2 separate regions of the Homo sapiens genome follow, and region 2 is reported to be linked to region 1. Evidence: microRNA targets listed by miRTarBase, many of them from high-throughput screens and not tested one by one. Region 1 holds a microRNA gene; the other region holds the end of a gene's coding sequence.

Region 1 (4,064 bases):
ATCTTAAACTCTGCCAAAAAAGAACCTAAGCTCTAAAGCACCCCATGCTCCCTTTCTCAGCTTCTCCCTGTTTGATACGAATTCTGTGACTCTGCTGGTCTTCCCTTGCCCACTGGAATTTTGGGCTTCTAAATACTTTGTGAATTAGGCTTTTCTCTCTTTCTCACTTGAGATCACCTCAGTCTCAATTTCTGTTTCCCTCTTGCTCCCTCTCTCCTTTGCTCTTTTGTTACCAGCATTTCATCATTGATCTCATCTGTAGGTTCCGTATAGCCAAATACATACATCCTCAAACACAGTTACTCACATGAGGCCTTCAGTCTCAAAAGCATTAGCATGTGGCACTGGGCGCCGTGGCTCACACCTGTAATCCCAGCACTTTGAGAGGCTGAGGCAGGCAGATCACGAGGTCAGGAGTTCGAGACCAGCTTGACCCACATGGAGAAACCCTGTCTCTACTAAAAATACAAAATAAGCCGGGCATGGTGGCACATACCTGTAATCCCAGCTACTCGGGAGGCTGAGGCAGGAGAATCACTTGAACCTGGGAGGCGGAGGTTATGGTGAGCCGAGATTGTGCCATTGCACTCCATCCTGGGCAACAAGAGCGAAACTCCATCTCAAAAAAAAAAAAAAAAAAATAAAGCATTAGCATGTGGAAATATTGTAATGTGCTGCATTAGCAAATAAATTAACATTATCACTCATTGATAAATACTAATTAGTGCAATAAAAGCAGAGGATCTCATTTCAAAACATGTTTGGTGACAAAGTGTAAAAGAATGCCAATTAATTAAACTTTCATTGCATTCCACTGCTACAAACAAATTGATCTTAGTTTTGTTCTTTTGCACTTAACAAATGTTGATTTGTTGAGATTCTATTGTGGGAGAGAATCTGCCACCCTTCCCCTTCCCCAGCAATTATCCACGATTATTATGAGTGTTTAAATACCATAGCAACAGCTCCTAATTATCTACATCAGTGGGAGCGAGTAGAATTGTGGATAATCCAAAAATAATTTGCATGTGAAATACTTTTTAAACACCTGAATATTATAATAATAATATCTTAAATTGTATTATACTTTTCAATTTCCAAAACGTTCCCAACTTCTTGTAACTTTATTTCCATTTGATATGGTGCCCTCTTTTAAGTAAAGCCACCACTTCTCAAATTTTCTCTGCAACTATGAATAGATTGTGGGTATGTGAATGAATTTGAAAGGGTTCCTCTGTTACATTGAGAACATAAAAAAAGTCACTAAGGAAAAACAACTAATGTTAGTCAGAAATGTCTCCTTCTAAGCAACGGCTGATAAAGGGGGAAATGGCAACAGTAACAACCTCAGAAGATTGCAATGGAGCTTAAATGAGTTAAAATATTTACAGCACTTAGCCAATAACTGGCACATAGAAAGTGTTCACATGTTCGTCCAGCAAGGCTGGCCTGTGTGAGTGCTCACCAGGTGCCAGGTTGAGGCTGTACAGTTCAACACAGATTTCAGGAAAATCATGCACCTGTCTCTTTGCAAACATAAAATCTGGAAACAGCTCACTCCTCAATGGACAATAATAATCACTGCTCTAGTTGCATATGAAATGGGAATTTTCCTAACCAGAATTTCAGCTGGAGACTCAGCCTGGGACAGTAGTCATTGCCGTGTGATCCACAAGCTATGCCATCCATATGGACTCAGAAGAGGGGGATTTCAAAAGAATTCTGCAACCTCTAGGCTATTAGTCACCCTCCAGTCTACATAAGGGAAACAAGAGTTATAGGGAAGAAGGCCGGAAAAAGGGACTTTTTTTTGAGAGACAGTGGTTGGGGACCATGTTTCCCCCCACTCCCTCCTTTCCCAGCACATCTGACTGCCTCCTGCCCACCTGCCCTCCTGCCTTCCTGCCCTCCATCCAGCCCTTTCCAGAAAACAGCAGCCAGGTCAACTATTCACAAACAGCCCCTTCTCATCCTTTGGTATTTTTAGATATCAGTGTTTTATAGGGATGTCTTGTTTTTCTTCCCCCCCCAGAAAACATATCAGAAGTCAAAAGAACAAATGCAGGCTGAATTAAAAATGGACTATGAGAGTTATCTGGAACTGGAAAAGACTGTTCTTATCAACCTTGGCCTAATCAAAGTCACAGAGAAGGGGTCATACATGGAGGTGATGTAAAAAAGCTTCCTGAAGGGGTGTTTTGGGGACTTCTTCCCTCTATTTATTTTTATGTCAGGTGAACTGGCATGCTGAACATATATATATATAGGCTCATTTATAGACTTTTATTTCCCTGCTATTAAAACTTTTGAATTTTAGCAATGAGATCTATTTCAGTTTTTGTACCATGTATGTACCAAATTTTGTACTGAATATGAAAGTGTTCTTTTTTAATGAATGTTTTCAATAACAAAATTTGTATTTTCCTATAATAATAGAGAACTTTGGATGTCCCTTCCATCCCAATCCTTGCTGTCCACACAGAGGCCCTCATTCCAGGCAGAAGGGGAAATCAAACTGCTCCTACTTATCAGCTTGCTTTTGGCCACCTTTCCAAAAAAAGTGCTTCCCCTTGGCCACTGTACAAACTGTAGGGCCATGTGCTAAACAAAATATTAGCAAATCAAATCCAGAAATATATATATATATATATTTTAAAGAGGTTAACACATGAAGACAAAGTTGGGTTTATCCAAGGAAGATAAGGTTAATTTAAGAGTAGAAAATAAATCAGTGATTAATCAAAAGAGAGAAATTATGATGCCAAGTCGATGCAGAAAAACATTTCATAAAAGTTGACATCAATTCATGATAATAATGATACATTCTTGGCATCTACAGAAAGAATTCCTGTAATGTGATGAAGGGCGTGTAAAACAATACTACACCAAACATGGTACTTCATGGTGACAAGCAGAAAGCTTTCCCCTGAGATGTGGAACAAGACACAGCTCACACCATCAGGTGCCTGACATCATGTACTGCAGTTGCCTTTTTGTTCCCATGCTGTTTAAGCCTAGCATAGGCACCAAAAAGCAACAACAGTATGTGAAACTGAGACACAAAAGAGCTTGGAGCCAGATTGTGAAGGCTCCTGTTTACCAAGCTAAGGAGCTGGATTAGAATTTATGGGGAATGAATGGAAGGTCTAAACAGGAAGTTGACCCAATCAGCTTTATTTTTAGGAAACAAGGAATGAACTAGAGCAGGGGAGAGTCTCATGGCAAGAAATCCTATTAGGAGGCAGGAGGAATTGTTCAGGGCAAAGGATTAGGATGCCCTGTACTAAAGCTTAATGTGAAGATAGAAATCAAAGGCTGGTTGGATGGGGAAGGGAAGACAAAGGATAATACCAAGGTTTATAAGTTAGATTGCTAGAGGAAAGAAAACTTTGTCGGATAGATTTTAGCTCTTAACCACCTGTGTGCCCTTGAACAGATGACCCAGCTCTGTGAAACAGATTCCCCTTCCATCAAGTCAGGTTGAGAGAACTTAACTTGCAGCATTTATGTAAGGGGCAAATGAGCCCCTGCAGATAAGGGGCCTGTGCCTGGCACATATTATTGTCATCATGATTGAAATATCCCAGGGCTCATCCTTACACTTGAACTTCTTTTATTCTTTCTTTTTTCTGCACTCACTTTCTAGGTGCATGCATCCACTCTCAAGGCTTTAGATACTACCTCTGTCCCTGACCTGGCCTTCTCTCTAAAATCAAGAGATGTGTATCTATTTGACCTTTTGTATCTCCACTTGGATGTTTAATAGGCATCTCAAACTTAAACATGTCCAAAATTGAGTGCTTGATGTTTCCCTTCAAAAACCATTCCTCCAGCAGTCCTCCCAGCCATGATGCTGCTTGGGGCAAAAGCCTTAAGGTCATCCTTCATCTCCTTTCTTTCACAATCCACATCCAATCTGTCAGCAAGTCCTGTTGACTACACGTTCAGTATGCATGTGAAACCTGATCGCTTCTCTTCTCCCTCACTGCTACCACCATGGTCCAAGCTGCATCATCATCAGCTTGGATTTTGCAGCAGCCTCCTGTTCTCCCTGTTTCTATGTT
Region 2 (4,058 bases), not on the chromosome of region 1:
CCCCACCTGATGGTGTTTTGATAATAATACTTTCTCAGTGAAGGGAGCAGTAAATGTTGATTTACAAGTCACAAGTTCCTTATTTCATGGACATGCTCGGAGCAGTTCTGGTCTAGAGTGGGAAGGGACTTAGCAACAATGGCAAGGTAGTGTTGTGATGCTGATCACAGATCCTGATCCAAATCCTGGCCCAGAGTGATCTGGGGAAACTTGGATAGTCTAATCCATTTTGAAAATGAATAAGACTTATAAAACTTACTCCAAATTTGTTGGTCTAACAAATTAACCAGTTGTCAAATTTCTGAAACATTTTGGTCCTTGTGGCCCTCTGCATGGTTCATATTTAGTTTTTAAAGCTGTAAATTCTGAACGCATTTAAAATACAGAAACAGAAGCTGTATAAAAATAGACTACAGAAATAACACTAAGTAGCCACAAAACACTGATTTGAAACTGACCTAGAAAAAATGTGCAGTACTCCTTTAGCAAACAGTTTTTTCTTACAGGTAGTGCCTCAGACTTGAGTGGTGGAATTAGGGTCACCACAGTTAAGAGTTGGATAGTCCAGGTGGTGATGAAATGTTCTTAATTCTATAGTTTTTCTAGAGTAGTTTTAGTGTTAGAAGATAATTACCATACAATCTTAATTCAGGGAGGGACTTTGGTGGGAATTACCCTCACTTCAGACGAGGAAACCAAAGCTCAGAGATAAAAGGAGCTTGAAAACACCTATTTGGTCCATAGGGTTTCTTTTGCATTATTCCCTCATTGGTTTGGAGACATTATTTGAAACTAAAATGTAGTGTTTTATCTTCATCAGGTCCTGGCTCAACAGTGATTCCCTGAAAAGCATCAGATACAAAATTGTCAATTTTGACCCTAAACTTTTGGAAGGAAAAGTAAAGGAGGATCCTGACCAGGGGGAATCCATGAAACCTGTGAGTTCCATGCATCCTTCTTTGCACTTGGCAGTATTAGGAAATAATGGAATACCTGGGTATCTGTGGGTATAGTGCAAGTAGTTTCCTGGGGACCAAGCCTGGGTGGTTCTAAGAGTCCTTTCTTCTCCTGAATGGGTACTGAAAGCATCCTAGGAGTTTCTGTGTAAATAAAAGCACAGCTAGTGCGGTATCCTATGCCAATTATTCTTTCCTTTTCCAGTTAACCTTTGCAAGGTTCTACTTGCCAATTCTGGTTCCCAGCGCAAAGAAGGCCATATACATGGATGATGATGTAATTGTGCAAGGTATCAAAAATGTCACCATGAGTGCTGTTCTCCACCCAGATTGGGTACAATTGCTAAATAAAACAATGGGCTACAGTGGGCTGTAGTGGTTTATTTATGGTCTTCTATAAAAGGTCACCATAGGGAGAAGTGGGAGTAACAGGGAACTCTCAAGGCAACGGAAATGTAAATCTTAACATCTTGTCTATTTCAGGTGATATTCTTGCCCTTTACAATACAGCACTGAAGCCAGGACATGCAGCTGCATTTTCAGAAGATTGTGATTCAGCCTCTACTAAAGTTGTCATCCGTGGAGCAGGAAACCAGGTAAATTGCTTACCAAACACCCCTCTTCCTACAATATTGTTTAATGGGAAGAGGTTGCAAATTCAGGGAACTCTTTTGCTGCAATTTACACTCCCCAATCATTTCATCCCAAAACTCAAGCCTGCTTTTCTGTAGACTTCTTCATGGACTTGACAGCCTAATTGTTCTTGAACATCTGGTTTATTATGTCAACATCTAGGTTCCTATTCTAACTTGGAATTTCAAATATTTATTTTCTAATCTGAAGAAGTCAGTTTAACAGCTCTTCTCTCTACTGGCTATAAAATTGTATCTATTTTGTTTGAAGCAGTAAGTACATATATCCTATTTGTGTTTTTAGTACAATTACATTGGCTATCTTGACTATAAAAAGGAAAGAATTCGTAAGCTTTCCATGAAAGCCAGCACTTGCTCATTTAATCCTGGAGTTTTTGTTGCAAACCTGACGGAATGGAAACGACAGAATATAACTAACCAACTGGAAAAATGGATGAAACTCAATGTAGAGTAAGTATGTAACTGGCCTAGCTGTGAAAAACTGTTGTATTTCAATTCCTAGAGTCTTGACTAACAGGAGTTAGTCAGTACTTTTCACTAACAAACATTTGTTTTCTGTCCCACCAAGAGAGGGACTGTATAGCAGAACCCTGGCTGGTAGCATCACAACACCTCCTCTGCTTATCGTATTTTATCAACAGCACTCTACCATCGATCCTATGTGGAATGTCCGCCACCTTGGTAAGTAGAATTAACCAGTGGCATAAGCTAGTAAAGAATTGGTATCTAAAGAACTATCCTCAGGGATGGGGTATATTCTTTGTTTCCCTTAAGTAAGTTTTCTGCACAATTTCACATGGCGCAACGATGTGGCTATTTTTGTCTCAAATGTAAGGTTCCAGTGCTGGAAAACGATATTCACCTCAGTTTGTAAAGGCTGCCAAGTTACTCCATTGGAATGGACATTTGAAGCCATGGGGAAGGACTGCTTCATATACTGATGTTTGGGAAAAATGGTATATTCCAGACCCAACAGGCAAATTCAACCTAATCCGAAGATATACCGAGATCTCAAACATAAAGTGAAACAGAATTTGAACTGTAAGCAAGCATTTCTCAGGAAGTCCTGGAAGATAGCATGCGTGGGAAGTAACAGTTGCTAGGCTTCAATGCCTATCGGTAGCAAGCCATGGAAAAAGATGTGTCAGCTAGGTAAAGATGACAAACTGCCCTGTCTGGCAGTCAGCTTCCCAGACAGACTATAGACTATAAATATGTCTCCATCTGCCTTACCAAGTGTTTTCTTACTACAATGCTGAATGACTGGAAAGAAGAACTGATATGGCTAGTTCAGCTAGCTGGTACAGATAATTCAAAACTGCTGTTGGTTTTAATTTTGTAACCTGTGGCCTGATCTGTAAATAAAACTTACATTTTTCAATAGGTATCTTCTTTTTTTATTCCAGATAACTACTTCCACTCACAATGAGATGAATTGTCTTTTTACAGAATTTAGGGATTCCAAGTTGCCTGGTTTTAATATAATACATATTCACAAAATTTACACAGCTCATGCATACCATAACTTATACAGAGAACAGTTTAGCAGTCTGCTTAAAATGTTAAAAAAAAAATCATAAAAAGCCATTGTTCTGTTACACATAATCTGTACTGAAGTCATAAGCATCATCCTCTTCAATGATTTTATCCAAGATAAAAGACCTTGTAGACTGTTCACCTATATTGCAGGAAAATAAAGAGATTTTCAAAAAGTAAAAGTGATTCTATACCATGCTGCTTCGTTAGAACCCCTTTTGCCTGCCTCACCTGCTGTAGTCTCCTCAGACAGTGCCTCCCCTGTCTCTTCTGCAGCAAACATGCCTGAGCTGTTTTCCTGTGTGACAAAGAAAAATAGTGCTGGATTAGTAGCCCTTGTCTGCTCATTTAATCCAAGTAGTTATGTACCTGAAAAATTAACTCTTTGGAGGTACATATAACGGGATGTGCAAAATTAAGGCTAATGGATCACAAGCCTCAAATATTTCCTATCTTCAGTTCCTTCCATTATGTATTATAATGCTAGAAAACTCACTTCAGTTTTAACTCATGGAGGACACACTTACATCAACTTCTTCATCAACAGTTTCCTGGTCACTGTCTTTGTCATCCTCCCTCTCCTCCTGCTTCCTTTCTTTCCGTTTTGGCAATTCTTCATGTATGTCCTTTTCTTCTATTATTCCATTTGTCAGACCGGAAGACTGGAAAAGGATGCTATTGGCCAAATGAGGGCCCTTGATGGCTGGGAAAGAAAGCAAGCCCATGTAAACAGGTAAGAGCTCCACTGGCCTGTCAGCTGATGAAGACAGCAGCGACACACAATTCTCACCTCTTATGCTCTGTGCATTGTTCTTTTCCAGTTCTTCCAGATTGAAGCCGCTTTTCATGTCTACCACAATACTCTCATTAAAATATGGAGGAGGAGTCCAAGATGTAGGGGGATGGCAATAGT

The links. Region 1 holds the annotated microRNA hsa-miR-4423-5p (AGUUGCCUUUUUGUUCCCAUGC, at 2,984-3,005, shown strand). A microRNA usually pairs through its seed, bases 2 to 8, with sites in the 3' UTR of a target mRNA and lowers its output. Matches are read on the target gene's strand: a 7mer-m8 pairs with bases 2 to 8, a 7mer-A1 pairs with bases 2 to 7 and ends in A, and an 8mer does both.
Region 2: miRTarBase lists GNL3 as a target of hsa-miR-4423-5p. Seed matches in the 3' UTR shown: 7mer-m8 at 3,075-3,081.

What each region holds. Positions count from the first base shown.
Region 1 is chr1:85,130,823-85,134,886 of GRCh38, forward strand. It overlaps MIR4423 (microRNA 4423), which reads left to right and starts at 2,972; the gene lies at 2,972-3,051. DNAI3 (dynein axonemal intermediate chain 3) reads left to right here. Exons shown (of 23, transcript NM_145172.5): 23 at 2,033-2,316. The coding sequence ends at 2,176.
Region 2 is chr3:52,693,422-52,697,479 of GRCh38, reverse strand. GNL3 (G protein nucleolar 3) reads right to left here. Exons shown (of 15, transcript NM_014366.5): 12 at 3,936-4,058; 13 at 3,673-3,848; 14 at 3,377-3,443; 15 at 2,983-3,287. The coding sequence ends at 3,205. GLT8D1 (glycosyltransferase 8 domain containing 1) reads left to right here. Exons shown (of 10, transcript NM_018446.4): 5 at 821-938; 6 at 1,162-1,246; 7 at 1,440-1,552; 8 at 1,893-2,059; 9 at 2,178-2,290; 10 at 2,445-2,994. The coding sequence ends at 2,635. Among named protein-coding and RNA genes, the nearest start is that of SNORD69, 2.7 kb to the right of the region's middle.